Homo sapiens: one gene and its partners. The protein of the gene in region 1 purifies or fractionates together with the protein of each later gene. This does not show direct contact. Each region holds a gene or a part of one and is shown on either strand. Other genes may lie near its edges.

The links. Proteins that work in one complex are often made in the same cells at the same time.
Region 2: the proteins of KPNB1 (region 1) and NUSAP1 purify together in Homo sapiens (affinity purification with mass spectrometry; 4 studies listed by BioGRID and IntAct, with this or other methods). This does not show direct contact.
Region 3: the proteins of KPNB1 (region 1) and DLGAP5 purify together in Homo sapiens (affinity purification with mass spectrometry; 4 studies listed by BioGRID and IntAct, with this or other methods). This does not show direct contact.

Annotation. Positions count from the first base shown.
Region 1 is NC_000017.11:47,680,919-47,686,038, reverse strand, and holds the end of KPNB1 (importin subunit beta-1), read right to left. Parts: intron 3,636-5,120; coding exon 3,635-3,635; 3' UTR 534-3,634; downstream 1-533.
Region 2 is NC_000015.10:41,335,859-41,342,891, forward strand, and holds part of NUSAP1 (nucleolar and spindle-associated protein 1), read left to right. Parts: intron 1-6,527; coding exon 6,528-6,596; intron 6,597-7,033. UniProt on the Homo sapiens protein: Microtubule-associated protein with the capacity to bundle and stabilize microtubules. May associate with chromosomes and promote the organization of mitotic spindle microtubules around them.
Region 3 is NC_000014.9:55,181,575-55,188,607, reverse strand, and holds part of DLGAP5 (disks large-associated protein 5), read left to right. Parts: intron 1-4,854; coding exon 4,855-5,048; intron 5,049-6,175; coding exon 6,176-6,238; intron 6,239-7,033. UniProt on the Homo sapiens protein: Potential cell cycle regulator that may play a role in carcinogenesis of cancer cells. Mitotic phosphoprotein regulated by the ubiquitin-proteasome pathway.

The sequences.
Region 1 (5,120 bases):
ACAATGATTCACTGAGAACATTTCTCCACTGAAGGTGAGATTTGAGAAAAGAATGCAATTAGTTCATCAAATGGCAGAGAAGGAGCAACTGCTCCCACAAGAAACCCCATTACCGTATACCTGGTCCCAATACAAACACTCAGAAACACAGTGCAAGCCTGCAGTTCCACCTGGCCTCCAAGGTGCCAGCTTGGCCCACCTGAAGTGAAAAATGGTAAACACTGAGATTTTATGTTTTAATTTGCAGAACAACCTTAGTCAGTATTCCTGTTTTACTGATGAGGAATGCTTCAAACTCTCCAAACACGAAACATCCTCCATGCATACTTTTTCCTTACCTCATTTGTAGGACACTGTTTCATCTATATCACATTACACTATGTAATATCCATTTCAAGATGTGTGTCCCTCCTTTTCCCCACACACATACATACACAAACACCTCTCACCACACATTCTGACTTTCAAACCATTTCACCTCCATGGAGGTGACACCATTTGGGACAAAAAAAAAAAAAAAAAGCAGCAAGATGTTGAAAATAAAAATAAAGCGGACTTTATTTAGAAGATAAAGGTGGTGGTTATCGGTTTTGGTTAATCGAGTTGGGCTCAAGTGTTTTACAGGTCTTAAATGCCATCACAGACTGGCATGCCAAGGGCATTCTGAATGCCAATTACAGATTGAAGTTGTTTCAAAAACCAAGATGCTATCAAAAGCTGATGAGTTTGGATTTTTCTTAAAGTTGGACTAACACACTTCTTAAATATTTGTAAGAGTAAATAGATTGCTTGGTTCTGAAAGTTAAAACACTACACTGAGCAATTCCCCTTCTCCACAAGTCCCTAAGGCAATATTACAGTTGCCTCTGACAGCAAGTCCAACATTTCAACAAAGGGGGGGTGAGGAGAACTGGGAAAAATGAAAAGCAAAATTAATAAATGTAATTGATACAGGCAGCTGCCACTTGTGGCAAACCAAAGCCTAGTCCGATGCCCATTATCTTCACATTTGCACTGACATCTTCCCAAGCAGACGGTAACTACATTCTTGAAGGAATGTGCCAAGACTAGGGTGGGGAAGGCCCAGACAGTGAGTGAACAGAATGCATTTTGCACCCAGTTGCCTTAGGTGGTATAACTGATATAAGGACAAATACCCAGACTATGGAAAACCCACTGGCAAAAGGTTAACTAGAAAAGAGGAGAATTAAATGCATAACCAGTGCAGAGTAACTGCAAGGCACCAAGACCACATCCAACCAGCCCATTTTCCTCCTCTCCACCACTGAATGGATCTGGGAGAAAGCATTAGTAACAGCACTCATCAACTGCTTCCCTGGAACAAAACATGACAAAACACACGGAAGGTTTTTTCATTATGGTTCTCGGTGTACTTTATTCTCCTGCTGTCTAGCTAAGCAGCCCACACAGGACAGAAATGGGTAGCACTGAGGAATGATCAGATTTTTTTTCTATCCCCAATATTTCTGCCCCCTCCCTAAGCCCTGACCCAACCCTATCTTAATAATCACGAATGGTTAGTACATCATTCTGTCTCTCAAAGAACAACTGAAATGGAAACAAGGCATTAGAGGACCAGGCCTCTTCTTAATAGGGCTTAGGAGCTGGTATGAGCTCTTTATTCACAATGGAGCGTCTCTCCTTCAAATACCTGGATTTTTTTTTTTTTGTACACTGGTTCATAGATCGGCACTTGACTTTGAACCTGGCACCAAAAGGCACAATATCTGATACCCTGTACAAGAGCTATTAGAGATGCTGCCATATGGATGGGCAAAACTGAGCCAATCCCACTTAGGAATGGAAGGCTTGGACATGGAAGGGAGGATATAAACGAGGAGTTGGAGAAAAACGCAAGCCCAGTTTTTGCTAGAGTGGAAATGAAAGTGGGAATGAGGGTCTTGTTTTTAGTCCTCTAAGGACCAGGAAGCAATTTTAAAACTTCCTTGGTTTTTCTGAAAGCAGCATATTCAAAATGCCAGCAAAAACTCCTAACAACTGCAAAACCAAAAGAGGATCAAAGCTCACCAACATCCCTTCTTATTGCTGAAAGGCTCTAAAATTCAGGATGCCCTGTTCCCTTGTAAAAGGGAAAATAATTAAGTCTGATTTATGGTAATCATACCACATCACACTTCTAAAAAAATATTCAAGTGTGTGACCAGGGGACGTTTGACACCATTTTATTAACCTTCAACTTCAGTGGAAAAATAAAACCTTTTCCAAGTGCCATTTTCATCACAAGACTTCTAGTTAGTGTGTGTGTGTATTCACACAACACACACTTTTTTTTGTTTTTGTTTTGTTGGTTGCTTTTGAAGTGCAGCAAGAGACCAATACCGCATTGTAGTCAATCAAATAAAAGAACAGAAGGCCAAGCAGTTTCCAAATGGTTATTTTATCAGATTGTTTGAACATTTAATTTATCCTGTTTGCAATCCAAAATAGTTACCTGAAGTTTGCTGTTTTGTGTGTATGTGTTTACTTTTATTGTATATTTATTTTTCTAAACTCTTTGGCACAATTTTCTGGGGGCGTTCAGACTGCCACAATACAAGTCAGGAGAGGGCGTTTTCTTTGTGCTGCCAATTCTGATCATTTAAATTTTGGTTTGTTTGGGTTGTGATTTTTTTGTTTTTGAAGTCTGCGTTATTTGTAACAATTGTACTTATATTTTTCTATATCCTCTAACGCCAGAGTTTTCTTTTTCTCCCCCCTCCCCCCCACTTCTACATTCACAGTTGAACCATATTATTAGGAAAGGCGCCTTGATGAAAAGATCAGGATAGGAGCTCTGACCATTCGTCAGTGTTTTCCCTAGAGTAAAAAAAACAAAAAACAAAACCAAAAAAAAAAAACAAAACAAAACCTAAAGAGCGTCTTTCCTCTGTGTGTGTGTTTTTTTTTTTTTTTTTTTTTTTTTTTTTACATCTCTTGTGCTGCATCAGTAAACAAAACTTCGGTTAGTTTTATGAAATGCAACATCTAACCCCTTGTTTTCTGGGAAAAAGAAACTGCAATGACTTGAAGTTGAGAATGTGGATACCGCCTCACTCACACACACTCATTCTCAGACTGTAAAAAATCCCTGACCCTCCTTCTAGCTGGCAAGCATACAGTACCATGTGGCAAAGGTACAGCGAAGGTGGGCTTGAGACCCAGGCTCCATCTTTCTCCTCAGTAGCAAAGGCCAGGCTGCCTTTTACAACAAAGCACCACAGCTGAACCCAGTCCCTCCTCCTCCCCCAAACCAGGCATTCCACTCGGCACTGGCCAAAAGACAGAAAAGCTACTTCTAGCCTCTCCTGGGAAGAGATAACTTTCTTTCTTTTTTTTTAAATAAGTAACTCCATTGTTTTTCTCTTTTCCAAGATGGCCGATGTTATGGTTTTCTACGAAGTCAGTGCTTACTTAGCTCACTAACAGCGCTGCTGTTGGCGGCTGCGGCTGCTGCTGTGGCAGGATTTTCAATGTGGTGTGTTTTCAAGCCTCACTCACTCATCCTCTCATTCCCAAACATTCAGCATCCGTGCACACTCCTCACTTCCAGGTTTTTCAAAAGATGGGAGATTTCCAGTGGGGGTCCTCAGGTTATCATCCCAATGGTAACAGATCTGAAAACAGATGGAAAAAAAGGTCAATCTTTGAGATCACATATACCCAACAGAGCCAATAATGCTGACTCCTACAATTACATGCTCCTAGGCCTGAATGGAATTTGTCAACATTTCAAGGATTGACACTCTTTCTTCTTGTCCTATGTGCCATTGACCTGCTCTTATTAACACCTACATCAGAGGGTGCGAGGGAAACTCAAAGAGCCAATTTTACTGAGATCTGTGGAGTAAGATAACTAATTAAGAGTGAAAGAAATTAAAACTGTATTTCAGTCTGGGTGCAGTGGCTCAAGCCTTTAATCTCAGCACTTTGGGAGGCCAAGGAGGGAGAACTTCTTGAGGTCAGGAGTTCAAACCCAGCCTGGGCAACAGGAGATCTTGTCTCTAAAAATAAAAAAAAATTAGCCAGTCATGGAGGTGCTTGCCTGCAGTCCCAACCACCTGGGAGGCTGAGGCAGGAGGGCCACTTAAGCCCAGGAGCTGGAGGCTTCTATGAGGTGTGATTGTACCACTGCACTCCAGCCTGGGTGACAGAGGAGACTCTGTCTCCAAACAAACAAGATTGCATTTCAAAGTAGGAGCCAAGGCCTGGTGTGGTGGTGCACACCTGGGAGACCGACAAAGGTGGATCACCTGAGGTCAGGACCAGTCTGGCCAACATGGTGAAAACCCATCTCTACTAAAAATACAAAAAAAAAAAAAAAAAAAAAAAAACCTATAATTCCAGCAATTTAGGAGGCTGAGGTGGGTGGATCACCTAAAATCAGGAGTTCAAGACCAGCCTGGCAAACATGGTGAAACCCCATCTTTACTAAAAATACAAAAACTGGGCCAGGCATGGTAGCTTACGCCTGTAATCCCAGTACTTTGGGAGGCCGAGGTGGGTGGATCACGAGGTCAGGAGGTCAAGACCAGCCTGGCCAAGATGGTGAAATCCTGTTTCTACTAAAAATACAAAAAAATTAGCCAGGTGTGGTGGTGGTAGGGCACCTGTAATCCTAGCTACTCAGGAGGCTGAGGCAGAGAACTGCTTGAACCCGGGAGGCAGAGGTTGCAATAAGCTGAGATCGCACCACTGCACTCCAGCCTGGGCGACAGAGCGAGACTGTCTCCAAAAGAAAAAAAAAAAAAAAAAGAAGAAGAAAAGAAAAGAAAAAAAGAAAATTAGTCGGGTGTGGTGGCATGTGACTGTAATCCCAGCTACTCGGGAGGCTGAGACAGGAGAATTGCTCAAACCCAGGAGGCAGCAGTTGCAGTGAACCGAGATTGTGCCATTGCACTCCAGCCTGGGCGACAGTGAGACTCTGTCTCAAAAAGAAAACACACACACACACACACACACACAAAAAAACATTTGACTTTGGAAATCTTCTCTAGAGCTAGGCAACGTCTAAAAGCACTGCTGTAAAGAAAGAATAGGGCATGAGGAAAGGAATAGAAAACAGAAGAGAATTAGGGGGAAATGGCATTACTGATGATTTT
Region 2 (7,033 bases), on another chromosome or scaffold:
TACTATATTTTTATGTATACTAGTATATTTGTACTAGTAAAATTTATTTAAATTGTAATGTTTTATTTTAATCAAATCTTGATAATTTTACTAGTATGATATTATTAAAAATAAATTTATGGCCGGGCATGGTGGCTTGCACCTGTAATCCCAGCATTTGGGAGGCCAAGGCAGGTGTCTCACCTGAGGTCAGGAGTTTGAGACCAGACTGGCCAGCATGGCAAAACCCCATCTATACTAAAAATACAAAATTTAGCCAGGCGTGGCAGGGGGCACCTGTAATCCCAGCTACTCGGGAGGCTGAGGCAGGAGAGGAGAATTGCTTGAACCCAGGGAGGCAGACGCTGCAGTGAGCCAAGATCACACCATTGCACTCCAGCCTGGGCAACAAGAGCGAAACTCCGTCTAAAAATAATAATAATAATAATAATAATAATAAATATATAGGAGATAATATTCCCTCTTTTGAGAGACTTCTCTTAATGGTATAGCAATTTGAAGGAGCCAGTTATTAATGTTAGTGGGGCGACTGGTCCTGTTGTCACTCATGCCCTCACTTCCTTTCTTGCGAGCTTAAATTACAAACACTGGCACTATTTCCACTTCCTTGCACCTCCCTATACTCACCTGGCAAAACCCAAGCCTGATTAAACCCAGCTATGTGCTTAATCTTTGCCTATACCTCTGCAGCTAACTCTAGTTGGAGAAAACACCTAACTTTGTTGAGCGAACTTATTTTAAATATGCAACGCTAAACCTTAATATGGGCATTTGATCCTCCTCCTTTTGGTTTTTTTTTTTTTTTTTTTTTGAGATAAGGTCTCGCTCTGTTGCCTAGGCTGCAGTGGCACAATCAGGCCTCACTGCAGCCTCAACCTCTCAGGTTCAAGACATCCTCCCACCTCAGCCTCCTAAGTAGCTGGGATTACAGGCACGTGCCACCACACCTGGCCCATTTTCTTCTTAGTCATGAACTTTCCTACTTTTGAGGATAATTACTTTTTATCATCTTGACTCAACTTGGTTCCCTTCCCTCCCTTGATGACTTTACCTCATAGGTCATGGGAAAATAGATGCAATCAACAGAAAACTGCCTTATCGTTCAACCACCAAATCCCCCCCTTTTTTTCCTTTCCTTTTCTTTTTTTTTTTTTTTTTTTTTTTTTGAGACAGGGTCTTGCTCTGTCAGCCAGCCTGGAGTTCTCTGGAGTGCAGTGGCACAATCAGGACTCACTGCAGCCTCAACCTCCCGGGCTCAAGCAATCCTCCCACCGCAGCCCCCTGAGTAGCTAGGACTACAGGCATGACCACCCTGCCTGGCCAGTGTTTTTTTGAATTTTAGTAGAGATGAGGTCTGACTATGTTGCCCTGTCTGGTCTCCAACTCCTGAGATTCAGCGATCCTCGCGCCTTGGCCTCCCAAAGTGCTGGGATTACAGGCGTGAGACCCTAGGCTTGGCCCCACCACCAAACCTTTTAGCCACCCTGCATCTACATCCACATACTCTGCTTCTTTGCCTGTCTAAGGGCAACCTTTCCATTTATGCTGAAGATCCTGGGCCCTCTTGCTTCCCCTAGGACTACATTCCTACAATTAGAGCCTCTCTCCTCATTAATTTCTCCACTCTGCTAGCTTATTTGCCATAAGGCATGCAATCATGTTTTACTATCACCCATCTTTTAAAAAAATAAAAAAGCCAAAATCCTCTCCTGATCCCATGTCCTCATTCCATCTACTGCCCTATTTCTCTGTTCTTTTCTACTGAAATTGCTTTATTAAGGTCGCCATCTTACAAAGCTTGTGTTCCCTCTCTCCCCTCACCTGTGCCTATCAGTAGCATTTGGCATGATTGAACATTCCCCTCTGCTCCAGGCACTTTCTGTTCTAGGCTTTGATATTTCACGCTGTCCTGCCTTACTAGCACTTCTTTCTAGTCTCCTTGGTTGGTTCTTCATCTGCCAGATCTCTAAATGTGGAGTGCCCCCAGGGCTCTCTTCCTGGTTGTCTTTTCTCTAACTATGCTCTATCCCTCGGTGATCTTATCCACCCCATTTTTTTTTCTTTTCTTTTTTCTTTTTTTTTTTTTTTTTTTGAGTCACAGTCTTGCTCTGTCACCCAGGCTAGAGTGCAGTGGCGCAATCTCGGCTCACTGCAACCTCCACTTCCCAGGTTCAAGCGATTCTCCTGCCTCAGCCACCCGAGTTCCTGGGATTATAGGTGCCTGCCACCATGCCCAGCTAATTTTTTTGTATTTTTAGTAGAGACAGGACTTCACCATGTTGGCCTGGCTGGTTTCAAACTCCTGACCTCAAGTGATCCACCTGCCTTGGCGTCCCAAAGTGCTGGGTTTACAGGCATGAGCCACTGCGTCCGGCCCATTCCCATAAGTTAAAATTTACCCAAAAGCTAATGCCTCCCAAACCCACATCTCCAGTAGGACCTCTCTCTCCCCTGGGATGCTGACTCGTGTATTTAAGTGCATTTTCAACAACACGGTCAGGTCCAAGCATTGACAGTCTCTTCCCCATCTCAGTACATTGTTCAGGCCCAGTTTGGATCACCCTGGATTCCTCTCTTCTTCACCCACAGCCATCCATTCTTGTCAGCACCTCCTCCTAAATAGACCTGAAATCTGACCTCTGGGCACCATCTCCAGCGCTGCAAACCTGTGCCACAGCACTCTCATCTCCTGACCACTGCCTCAGTCTCCCTATTGGGCTTCCTGCCTCAACTCTTACCTCACAATAGTGTTCTCTTGGTAGTTGGAGTGATATTTGAAACTTAGGGAAAAGAAAAAAAAGAGAGAGAGACCAGGCGCCAGGCGCAGTGGCTCATACCTGTAATCCCAGCACTTTGAGAGGCCGTGGTGGGTGGATCACTTGAGGCCAGGAGTTCAAGGCCGGCCTGGCCAGCATGGCAAAACCCCGTCTCTACTAAAAAAAAAAAAAATACAAAAATTAGCCAGGCGTGGTGGCATGTGCCTATAATCCCAACTACTCGGGAGGATGAGGCACGAAAATCCCTTCAACCTGAGAGGTGGAGGCTGCAGTGAGCCAAGATCACGGCACTGCACTCCACCCTGGGCGACAGAGCGAGACTCTGTCTCCAAAAAAAAAAATAAACTTAGAACGTGTCTTTCTGCTCAGTGCCCTCCAATGACTTCCCTCACATCTAAAATAAAATCTAAACTCTTTCCAGTGTAATGAGAGAAACTTAGTTTGACCCTGATTTGGAGGGAAATTTTTTTAAAAAGAAAATAGCTAAAATTGGAGAGAAGGAAATTTCATTATGGGCCACATATTAGGTGATATTAGGAAATTATTGCTTTTCCTGAGTACACTAATGCATTAGAGGATCATGTGGGGAAATCTCTTATTTTTAGGAGATGTGGCTGATATATTTAGTGGTAAAGAATCATGATGTCTGGAACTTATTTTCAAATTCTTTCACAAGAATTATATATTAATATAGAGAAACCAAATATGAGACAATGCAAATGACTATTGAATCTTGGTGGGAAATATGAGTGTTTATTACATTACTTCGACTTTTCTTTTTTTTTTTTTTTTGAGACGGAGTTTCGCTGTTGTTGCCCAGGCTAGAATGCAACGGCATGATCTCAGCTCACTGCAACCTCCACCTCCTGGATTCAAGCAATTCTCTTGCCTCAGCCTCCCAAGTAGCTGGGATTACAGGCATGTGCCACCATGCCCAGCTAATTTTGTATTTTTAGTAGAGACAGGGTTTCTCCATATTGTTCAGGCTGGTCTGGAACTCCTGAACTCAGGTGATCTGACTGCCTCAGGCCTCCCAAAGTGCTGGGATTACAGGCGTGAGCCACCACACCCAGCCTACTTTGACTTTTCTATAGGCCTGACTTTTTTTCTAATAACAATTTAGGGGAAGAAATTAATTTTTTTTCTATTTTTTTATTTTTTTTGAGACAGACTTTCGCTCTTGTCACCCAGGCTGGAGTGCAGTGGTGCGATTCCGGCTCACTGCAACCTCCACCTCCCAGGTTCAAGTGATTCTCCCGCCTCAGCCTCCTGAGTAGCTCAGACTACAGGTGCCCACCACCACGCCCAGCTATTTTTTGCAGACATGGGGTTTCACCCTGTTGGCCAGGCTGGTCTTGAACTCCTAACTTTGGGTGATCTTCCTGCCTCGGCCTCCCAAAGTGCTAGGATTACAGGCATTAGTCACTGTACCTGGCTGAAATTCATAATTTTTGCTGTGGCCTTTACCTCTCTACTTGACCCAGCCTCTGGTCACATCTCTGATCTCCCTGCCCTCCATATACCTCAGTGTTCACCATACTTCTACCATAAGGGCAGTTTCTGTCTTTCAACTCATGAGTCCACCTCAGGGCTCCTGTTCTTGGCGCTCGCTCTGCTCGGAGTGCTCTTCACCTGCTGCCTCTTTCCTCATTCACATCTCGGGAGGCCTTTCCCAGCCATCCTAATTCAGGTAGCATCCCCACCCCACCCCAGTTGCCCAGTTTTATTTTTGCATCATAATACCTGACGTCATATCATTCATTTCTAGCTTTCTTGGGTAACTGTTTCACCTCTGCTAGAAGATCCTGGAGGGCAATCACCTTGTCTGTTTAATTAATCACTCTCTAGTGTCTGGAACAGTGCCCAGCACAATAAATGCTTGTTGAAGGAATGCATGAATATATGCTGATAACTAACATCTGCACCTTCAGCACAACTCTTGAACACCACCTCATATCATTCAACCTCCTCACTGGGTTCTGCCACAGGTGCCTCACTTCATGCATTTTTGTATGTTTGGTGAGATTTTGAAGGTATATTAAGAGAGTATTAGAAAAATCAAGAATGCCTGAATTCTGCCCTGCCAATCATCCCCTTCCCAGAGAAAACCTCAAGGGTGGTTCAAGGAACAAGTAGAAAATAAGGTACCACTTTATTACTAGCTGAAATAGTGCCTGATATCTTGATGCAGAGCATTCTGGTAAAGTGGATTGGAGACTGTGGCTTAGGCTTGCACCACAAGCAAAAGCTTGAGCACAAACCAAATTTCAGGATCTCTGCTATTCTCTACTGGACACATGGCCCATGATAAAAGGCATGAGAAGAATAGAGCCAAGCCTGGTGGCTGGGCCCACCTTGAGAAGGATGGCTGTGGCCCTCAACTGCATGGCTGGGTGGAAGAGGAAGAAAAAAAGAACCCAACCAAAAAACTTGACTTTTGTTTTTTAAACGGAGTCTTGCTCTATCGCCCAGACTAGAGTGCAGTGGCATCATCTCCTCGGCTCACTGCAACCTTCGCCTCCTGGGTTCAAGCAATTCTTCTGCCTCAGCCTCCCAAGTAGCTGGGACTACAGGCACACACCACCATGCCCGGCTAATTTTTGTTTTTTTATTAGAGACGGGGTTTCACCATGTTGGCCAGGCTGGTCTAAAACCCCTGACCTCGTGATCCACCTGCCTCGGCCTCCCAAAGTGCTGGAATTACAGGCATGAGCCACCCCGCTCAACCAAACTTGACTTTTAAAGCACAGGAAAATGTAACCAATCAAATTAACATTGTTCTTTCAGGAAAGAACAAGAAGGGAGGTTTTCCTAGGCTGGGAAGAGAAGCTCAGTGTTCCCTTCCCCCGGCAGAGACCTACAACCATCCCCCTAAGACCCCGTCACCTTTTGCATTCCTCATCTTAGGGACCGTACCACACTTCACCAGCTGTCCAAGCCAGAAACGTTGGCATAACAAAGTTTCCCTCTTCCTCAACTCTCATGTTCACACTGATTTCACTTCCTAAGAAGGTTTTGACTTCATCCATACTGCCTTAGCCCCGCTCCAGTTCAGGCCACAGCATTTCTGGCTCATCCCCATCAAATGCATCTTGCACATTGTGCAGGTAGACTACTCATTCTGAGTAATGCAAAATTGGTCACCCACTGCCTTGCTGCAAACTCTTCAGAGACTGCCCTTTTCTCTGAGAGTAAAGTTCATACTCTTTAAAGGCTTACAAGGCCTGGTAACATCACGGCCCTGCTCACTTTCCCAACATTGTCTCTTACTATCTCCTACAAACAGGTCCATGTTCCAGCCACACTGAACTTAAGTTCTTCAAACTCCACCCTCATTGTTGCCTTGCTGTGCCATTCCTCTACCTCTTTCTCTACCTTCTCTTCATCCTTCAGATCTCAGCAATTAGAGACATCACATCTTTATCTGAGAACTGCCCTGTGCAGATACTTGCTGAAGTCTAACCTAGCAGTCCCAACTTTGATGGCCATGCCTACCTATGTTCTCATGACAGCCTGAGCCTCCTAGCGTGGGCATTTACCCCACTGTATTGCAATTGCCTCTTTCCTTGTCTAACTTTCCCACTCAGATGTGAAATTCCTTAGAGCAGAGACCCATTCTTTCTAAGTAATGGTTCTAGTCCTATGGTCTGACCAGAGTACATTTAATGAATACAAGAACAGCAAAAAATATTCAACGTATCTTCCTTGTTTATTTGACTTTTGGCTCTAATAATAAGGTCTCTCTTGCAGGCAACCAAGTTGTTAAAAGCCTTGAAAGGCTACATTAAACATGAGGCAAGAAAAGGAAATGAGAATCAGGTGAGTAATGTTTTTCATGTTTACCTGTTAGCTAGCAAAATAATCATATTTGGTTAATGGGCAATTAACACACAACTAGTGATGATTTAAGACATGCTGTTGGCCAGGTGTTGTGGCTCACGCCTATACTCCTAGCACTTTGGTAGGCAGTGGCAGGCGGATCACTTGAGTCCAGGAGTTCGAGACCAGCCTGGCCAACATGGTGAAACCCCGTCTCTACTAAAAATACAAAAATTAGCCAGATGTGGTGGCGGGAGCCTGTAATCCCAGCTACTCAGGAGGCTGAGACAGGGAGAATTGCTTGAACCCGGGAGGTGGAGGTTGCAGTGAGCCAGGATCGCGCCACTGTACTCCAGCCTGGGTGACAGAGCAAGACTCCGTTCAAAAAACAAAAAAAAAGATATGCTGTTTATTAAAAAAGAGATCATTATTGGTAA
Region 3 (7,033 bases), on another chromosome or scaffold:
CTAACTACTGTCTTTAAGGCAAAAGCCTTTACCTGTGGAGTATTATAACACTTTATTATCTATATTGCTTCATAGAAATCCTAAAGTTCTTACGGAGCTTGGGTAGGATAAGTGTTGACAAGATAAATTGATAAGAAATGTAAAAATAGAATAATTAAAGAATCCATGAAATGAGAGTACTTTGTCAATGGAAACATTAGTAAGAAAAGAGCAAAGAATTCATCCTTGCAGTTTGCCCAGAAGGATTGGGACCATTAGGATGGAAAGAACCAACTAAAGAAGAAAGGAATAATCTCAGAAAAAGATGAAAATAGAGCATCTTAGAAGGCAAAGGATGCTACAGAAAAGAGAAAGCAAACTGAGAAATGACTTGTGTTTAGTCAGGAGTCACCCTACTCCTATTTGTTGTGTTCATATAGCAGGCGTTAGGAGCTAGATGGCATTGAAATAATGCTAGGATAAATAGGGAATGGCAGAAAGAACCAAACATTTTTTATCTGAGAAAGGGTGGTTCCTTTCTCATCTTGTCCTCTCAAATGCTCCATTTCTTAACCAAAAATCTTTCAAATTAAAGTCTAACTATCTCAGTATGCTATTAAAATATCCTTTATTTCCCGTTTGCAAAGGCTTAGAGGTAGGAGTGTGCCTGATATGTTTTAGTGAATGCAAGTAGGTAACTGGGTAGAAAAGAATGAGCAAGGGAGATAGATTACATAGAATCCTAAGGACCATCATTATAAGGACATTGGCTTTTACTCTGAAATGAGAGGCCATTAATGGGTGTTTATGTAATCTGATTCATGTTTTAAAAGGATCGCTTTGGAGTCAGGCCTGTAGCCCTAGCTACTCCAGAGGCTGAGGCAGGAAATCTTGAGCTCAGGAGTTTGAAGCTTCAGTGTGCTACAATGGTGCCTGTGAAAAGTCACTGCACTCTGGCCTCGGCCACACATGGAGATCCTGTCTCCTAAAAAAAAAAAAAAGAAAAGGATCAGGTCGGGCACAGTGGCTCATGCCTGTAATCCCAGCACTTTGGGAGGCCAAGGCGGGTGGATGGCGAGGTCAAGAGTTCGAAACCAGCCTGACCAACATGGTGAAACCCCATCTCTACTAAAAATAAAAAAATTAGCTGGGTGTGGTGACACACACCTGTAATCCCACCTACTCAGGAGGCCGAGGCAGGAGAATCGCTTGAACCCAGGAGGTGGACGTTGCAGTTAGCTGAGATCACGCTATTGTACTCCAGCCTGGGCAACAGAGCGAGACTCCATCTCAAAAAAAAAAAAAAAAAAGGATCACTTTGGCTGCTGTGTTGAGAATAGATTATAGGGTGGTATGTATGACATCAGGGAGAGCAGTAAGTAGACTACTGCAATAACTTAGTTGATACTAAAGTATTAAAAGACAAGGGGCCAGATGCGGTGGCTCATACCTATAATCCCAGTACCCCAGGCTAAGGTGAGTGGATCACGAGGTCAAGAGATCAAGACCATTCTGGCCAACATGGTGAAACCCCATCTCTACTAAAAATACAAAAATCAGCTGGGTGTGGCGCGTGCCTGTAGTCCCAGCTACTTGGGCGGCTGAGGCAGGAGAATCACCTGAACCCAGGAGGTGGAGGTTGCAGTGAGCCAATCACACCACTGCACTCCAGCCTGGGCAACAAAGTGAGACTCCGTCTCAAAAAAAAGACAAGGGAAAACTAGTAAAGAACCAAGGAACAATGCAAAGTAATGTAAGAGGATAACCAGAAGAACGTGCTATCCTAGAAACCGAGTAGAAAAGTGCATATCGAGGAGAGACTGATTAACTATGTTAGTCAGTACTGCTTGTTAGATCAAGTATAATAGAGGTGAGAATTTGGACTTCACCACTGTGGAGGTCACTGGTGATCTTGAATAGTTTTGGTGGAGTGAGGTTCAGGGAGTGAAAGATTGGAATGGATGAGTATAATCAAACCCTTAGATATAATTTGTAGTCTGTAGAAAACATGGAGCCTGGAGGAATGAGTAAATAAACAAATACAGCTTGCAAAGACATTCAATAGGAAAACTGACTACCTTTTGTCAGTAAGACAATGGCATGAAAAGAAGAGTGGGGAGGAGGATCTGTTTTAGATGAAGAGATTTAAAAAGACATTCAAATAAAACGTGTTGCTCTTACTTGGTTCTTGATTTAAGTAAACAGATGGTTTAAAAGACCTCTTTGAAACAAATAGAGACGTTTAAATCTGGACCCTGTAATAGATAACAAGGAATTACTGCTGATTTTGTTAAGTGTGATGATGATATCGTGGCTATGAAAGGAAATGTCTTTATTTTATTTTATTTTTATTTTTTGAGACGGAGTTTTGCTCTTCTTGCCCAGGCTGGAGTGCAATGGCACGATCTCGGCTCACCGCAACCTCTGCCTCCCGGGTTCAAGTGATTCTCCTGCCTCAGCCTTCCTGAGTAGCTGGGATTACAGGCATGCACCACCACGCCTGGCTAATTTTGTATTTTTAGTAGAGACAGGGTTTCTCCATGTTGGTCAGGCTGGTCTCAAACTCCCAACCTCAGATGAACCGCCCACCTCAGTCTCCCAAAGTGCTAGGAGTACAGGCGTGAGCTATCGCACCCTTCCAGAAATGTCTTTATTTTTTAGAAGTATATACTAAAGTATTTAGAGATGAAATCTTCTAAGCATAATTTGTTTTAAACAACTGCAGCAAAATGTTCATAATTATTGAATCTTGGTAATAGGTATATGGGGTTCATTATAATTGTGTGTATATTAGAAGTTTTTCATAATTTTGAAAAGAGAGGGAATGTAAAGAGTGTTGGAAATAGGCTGGGCTTGGTGGCTCACACCTGTAATTCCAGCACTTTGGGATGCCAAGGTGGGTGGATCACCTGAGGTCAGGAGTTCAAGACCAGCCTGTCCAACATGGTGAAACCCCATCTCTACTCAAAATACAAAAATTAGCCAGGCGCAGTGGCGCATGCCTGTAATCCTAGCTACTAGGGAGGCTGAGGCAGAATTGCTTGAACTCAGGAGGTGGAGGTTGCAGTGAGCCAAGATTGCGCCACTGCACTCCAACCTGGGCGACAGAGTGAGACTCTGTCTCAAAAAAGGCCAGGCGTGGTGGCTCACACCTGTACTCCCAGCACTTTGGGAGGCCGAGGTGGGTGAATCATGAGGTCAGGAGTTCGAGACCACCCTGGCCAAAATGGTGAAACTCCGTCTCTACTAAAAATGCAAAAAATTAGCTGGGCATGGTGGTGGGCGCCTGTAATCCCAGCTACTCGGGAGGCTGAGGCAGTAGAATCGCTTGAACCCGGGAGGCCGAGGATGCATTGAGCCGAGATCACGCCGCTGCATTCCAGCCAAGGCGACAGTGCGAGACTCTGCCTCAAATAAATAAATAAATAAAAGTGTTGATAGTAGAGATACAGGTAACTCTCTTGAAGAATTTTGCCTTAAATGGGACTAGAAAAATAAGTGCTAGATGAGGATGTAGGTTGGGAGAAATTACCGCATGCTTGTAACTTCATAATGGCAACAATTCAGTAGAGGAAAAAATAGATGAGTAAGAGGATAAGTTGCTGGAAGAATGTCCTTGAGTAGGTGAGAAGAAATAGAGTACATCTATTATAATAAATAGCACCTATAATTGTATTAGTTATCCCAAAACTTAGCAGCTTAAAACAATAAATATTGATTATTTCATACAATTTTTGTGGGTCAGGAACTTGGGTATGGCTGAGCTGGGTGATTCTGAAGATAGCAGCCAAGATGTCATCCAGAGATATATCTGAAGCCTTAACTGAGACTGGAGGATCTGCCTCCAAGATGACTGACTCACATGAACAGCAAGTTGATGCTGGCTTTTGGAAGGAGGCTGTAGTTCTTTGTCATGTGGACATCTCCATAGGACTGCTTGAGTCTTCTTAAGGCCCCACATGGCACCTGGCTTCTCCCAGAGCAAGCGACGCTTCAAGAGAGAGCAAGGCAAACACTACCCTAGTTTTAGAAGTCATATTCCATTATTCCTGTAATACTCTCTTGGTCACACAAGTCAGCCCTATTCAGTGTGAGGGGATGACACAGGGCAAGACTACCAGGAAGTGAGGATCAGTAGAGGGCAGCTTGGATGCTGGCTATCATACAAGTTAATTAATTTAAAAGTGAAGTAATAAATGCCTATTACATAGCAAGCAGTTAATATTTGAACACATGAAGGCAAAATGAATACAAATTTTAAAAGACTAGGGGTTGAAATAACTTGTGGTTAGAGTGCTAAAGAATTAACAAGAAATATTAAAAGCATTTCCCTTTGTGCGGAGAGGTCTTGCTTTGTTACTCAAGCTGAACTTGAACTCCTGGGCTCAAATGATCCTTCCACCTCAGCCTTCCCAGTAGATGGGACTACAGGTGTGTTACTGTGCCTGGCTTATTGAAAGCCTTTTTTTTTTTCTTGAGACGGAGTCTTGCTCTGTTGCTTAGGCTGGAGTGCAGGGGCGCAATCTTGGCTCACTGCAACCTCCATCTCCTGGGTTCAAGCAATTCTCCTACCTCAACCTCCCGAATAGCTGGGATTACAGGTGACCGCCACCACACCCAGCTAATTTTTGAATTTTTAGTAGAGATGGGATTTCACCACGTTGGCCAGGCTGGTCTCAAACTCCTGACCTCAGATGATCCGCCCTCCTCAGCCTCCCAAAGTGCTGGGATTACAGGCGTGAGCCACCGTGCCTGGCCTGAAAGCATTTTTTAGCAGCAGTTGAAATGACACAAAAATAATTGTTTATACATTTGCATAACTTTTCATCTGAAATGTTTTATATACTGTGTGGTTTTGGTTTTTTTTCTGCCTAGGGGCAATGAAAACTATTCTAGGTGATCAACGAAAACAGATGCTCCAAAAATACAAAGAAGAAAAGCAACTTCAAAAATTGAAAGAGCAGAGAGAGAAAGCTAAACGAGGAATATTTAAAGTGGGTCGTTATAGACCTGATATGCCTTGTTTTCTTTTATCAAACCAGAATGCTGTGAAAGCTGAGCCAAAAAAGGTAAATTTAGTGTCTTAATATAAAGGAATAGTTTCTTTTATTTGGTATTTTCTTCAAGACATTAAGTGACTAACCCCTTTCCCTTAGTCTCATTATTAACTGGTTGGTAGAAGGTGGGAATGACATAATAGTAGCTCAGAAGAATGAAAATCAGGTCTCTTAAGATAGCTGTAGGTAAGTTGAGATAGGATAAAACTAGGAAAATTGGTAGAATCAGGCTGAACAATGTTATGCAAAGGATTTGGTGTTTATCCTGTAGGTTTTGCAGAATCAGGAGAAGTTTATAAATAAGGGTAGTGCCGTTGTCAAATTAATAATTCAGGAAAATACCATAGCCCTAAAGATTTTAGTCTGGAAAGGGAAGCATTTATAGATAGGGAGACCAATTGTGAGACTATTGTAATAGAATAGATGGAAAGGGGCAGTGGGTTTTAAAAGGAAAAAATAGGTGTAAGACATCTAAATAAAGGCATTTGACAGGACTGGTGGCCAAGTAGATGGTGAGGGGTAAAGGAAATTGAAAAAGCAGAGAGAAGCTCTGCTGCTAAAAGAGATAAGGAAGATAAGGAACAAGCTTAAGTGGGTGCATGTTAATAACCTTTTTAAAAATCTTAAACTTGTGTGGGCCACCTAGATATTAGTAAAAATTTGGAAAGAAGGATGGAAATTGGTGCTAAGATGTCGATTTAGGATATAATATTGGGAATATGGATGAGTGTTTAAGCTGTAGGACTAAATGAGACCATTCCAATAAGGATATATAAAATTATGAAAAAGTGGGCTCTAGAGAGCACTTTTAGGTAGGCAGAAGCCAGGTACCAGGCTGAGGACTGGTCAGAGAGGCAGGAGAACTAAGAGAGGATAGAAGCTCATATTAATGATGATTCCAATACCTGGAAAATACGGTTTGAAATTTCTTTCTCACTGAGAAATGTGAGTAATTTTTGAAGTTACTAACTTAATTTAAATCAAGCTAGAACCAGAAAAAGGAATTTAAGTATCTTTTTGCTATAAGAGATTAAGGATAAAATTTAACTTTAAAATGGGAACTTTATTTTGTAATAAGATATGGAAGTAAACCTTTACCAGTTCATATTTTAAGTTCATCTTCTTTTGACTGTTCTAAGGCTATTCCATCTTCTGTACGGATTACAAGGTCAAAGGCCAAAGACCAAATGGAGCAGACTAAGGTATAGTTGATAGTAGATAATTGTTACTAAAATGATAAATTGCACTTTTTTAGTAAGTAAATTCATTTTAAATCTAGTATCAGATTCAAACATAATGATTAATTTACTAGAGTTAACAGGTACCAAAGTCACTGTTTTTAGTATGGTGATGTAGAGCAATTTCACTTAAAATATTTGCTCCAACATTCCGTATGAGATCCATGGCAAACTGTCTTTGTGTCACACTCTTGTTTTGTTTAGTGGGCTCCTATTATGCATTCCAAGTTACCTGCATGAAATGCATATGGGGAGGAAAGCACACAGGGTAGGTGTTATAAACTTACGGGTCTTCAAAATACTGTAATAGAGATATCAGGAGGGTTACTAAAACAAAGTGAAGTGGGCAAGAAGGGAAATAATATGCCTCTTTATCAGGTGAGGAAGCTAAGTTCCACGTATGCATATATATTTTGCATTGCTATGATGTTCCTGGTGTTGTAGGCTTTTGGATATAATAAACTAAATTCTCTTTGTGGAACTTACATGTAAGGCATTTAAAAAAATACATAATATGCCAGAAGATGATAAGTATTATGGAAGAGATTTTAAAAAGGGGAGATGGGGTGTACTAGAAATAGGTATGGGGTAGAATTTTGATTGGGCAGTTAAGGAAGGCCTCCCTGAGATGAAAGCCTTTTGAGTGAAGTCATTATGGAAGTGGAGAAGAGAACCATGGGAAAGCGCTTTTTATCCAGGAGAAGTATTTTCTAGGCAAAATTAAAAGGTCTTGAAGTGAAAGTATGTCTAGGAGTGTTT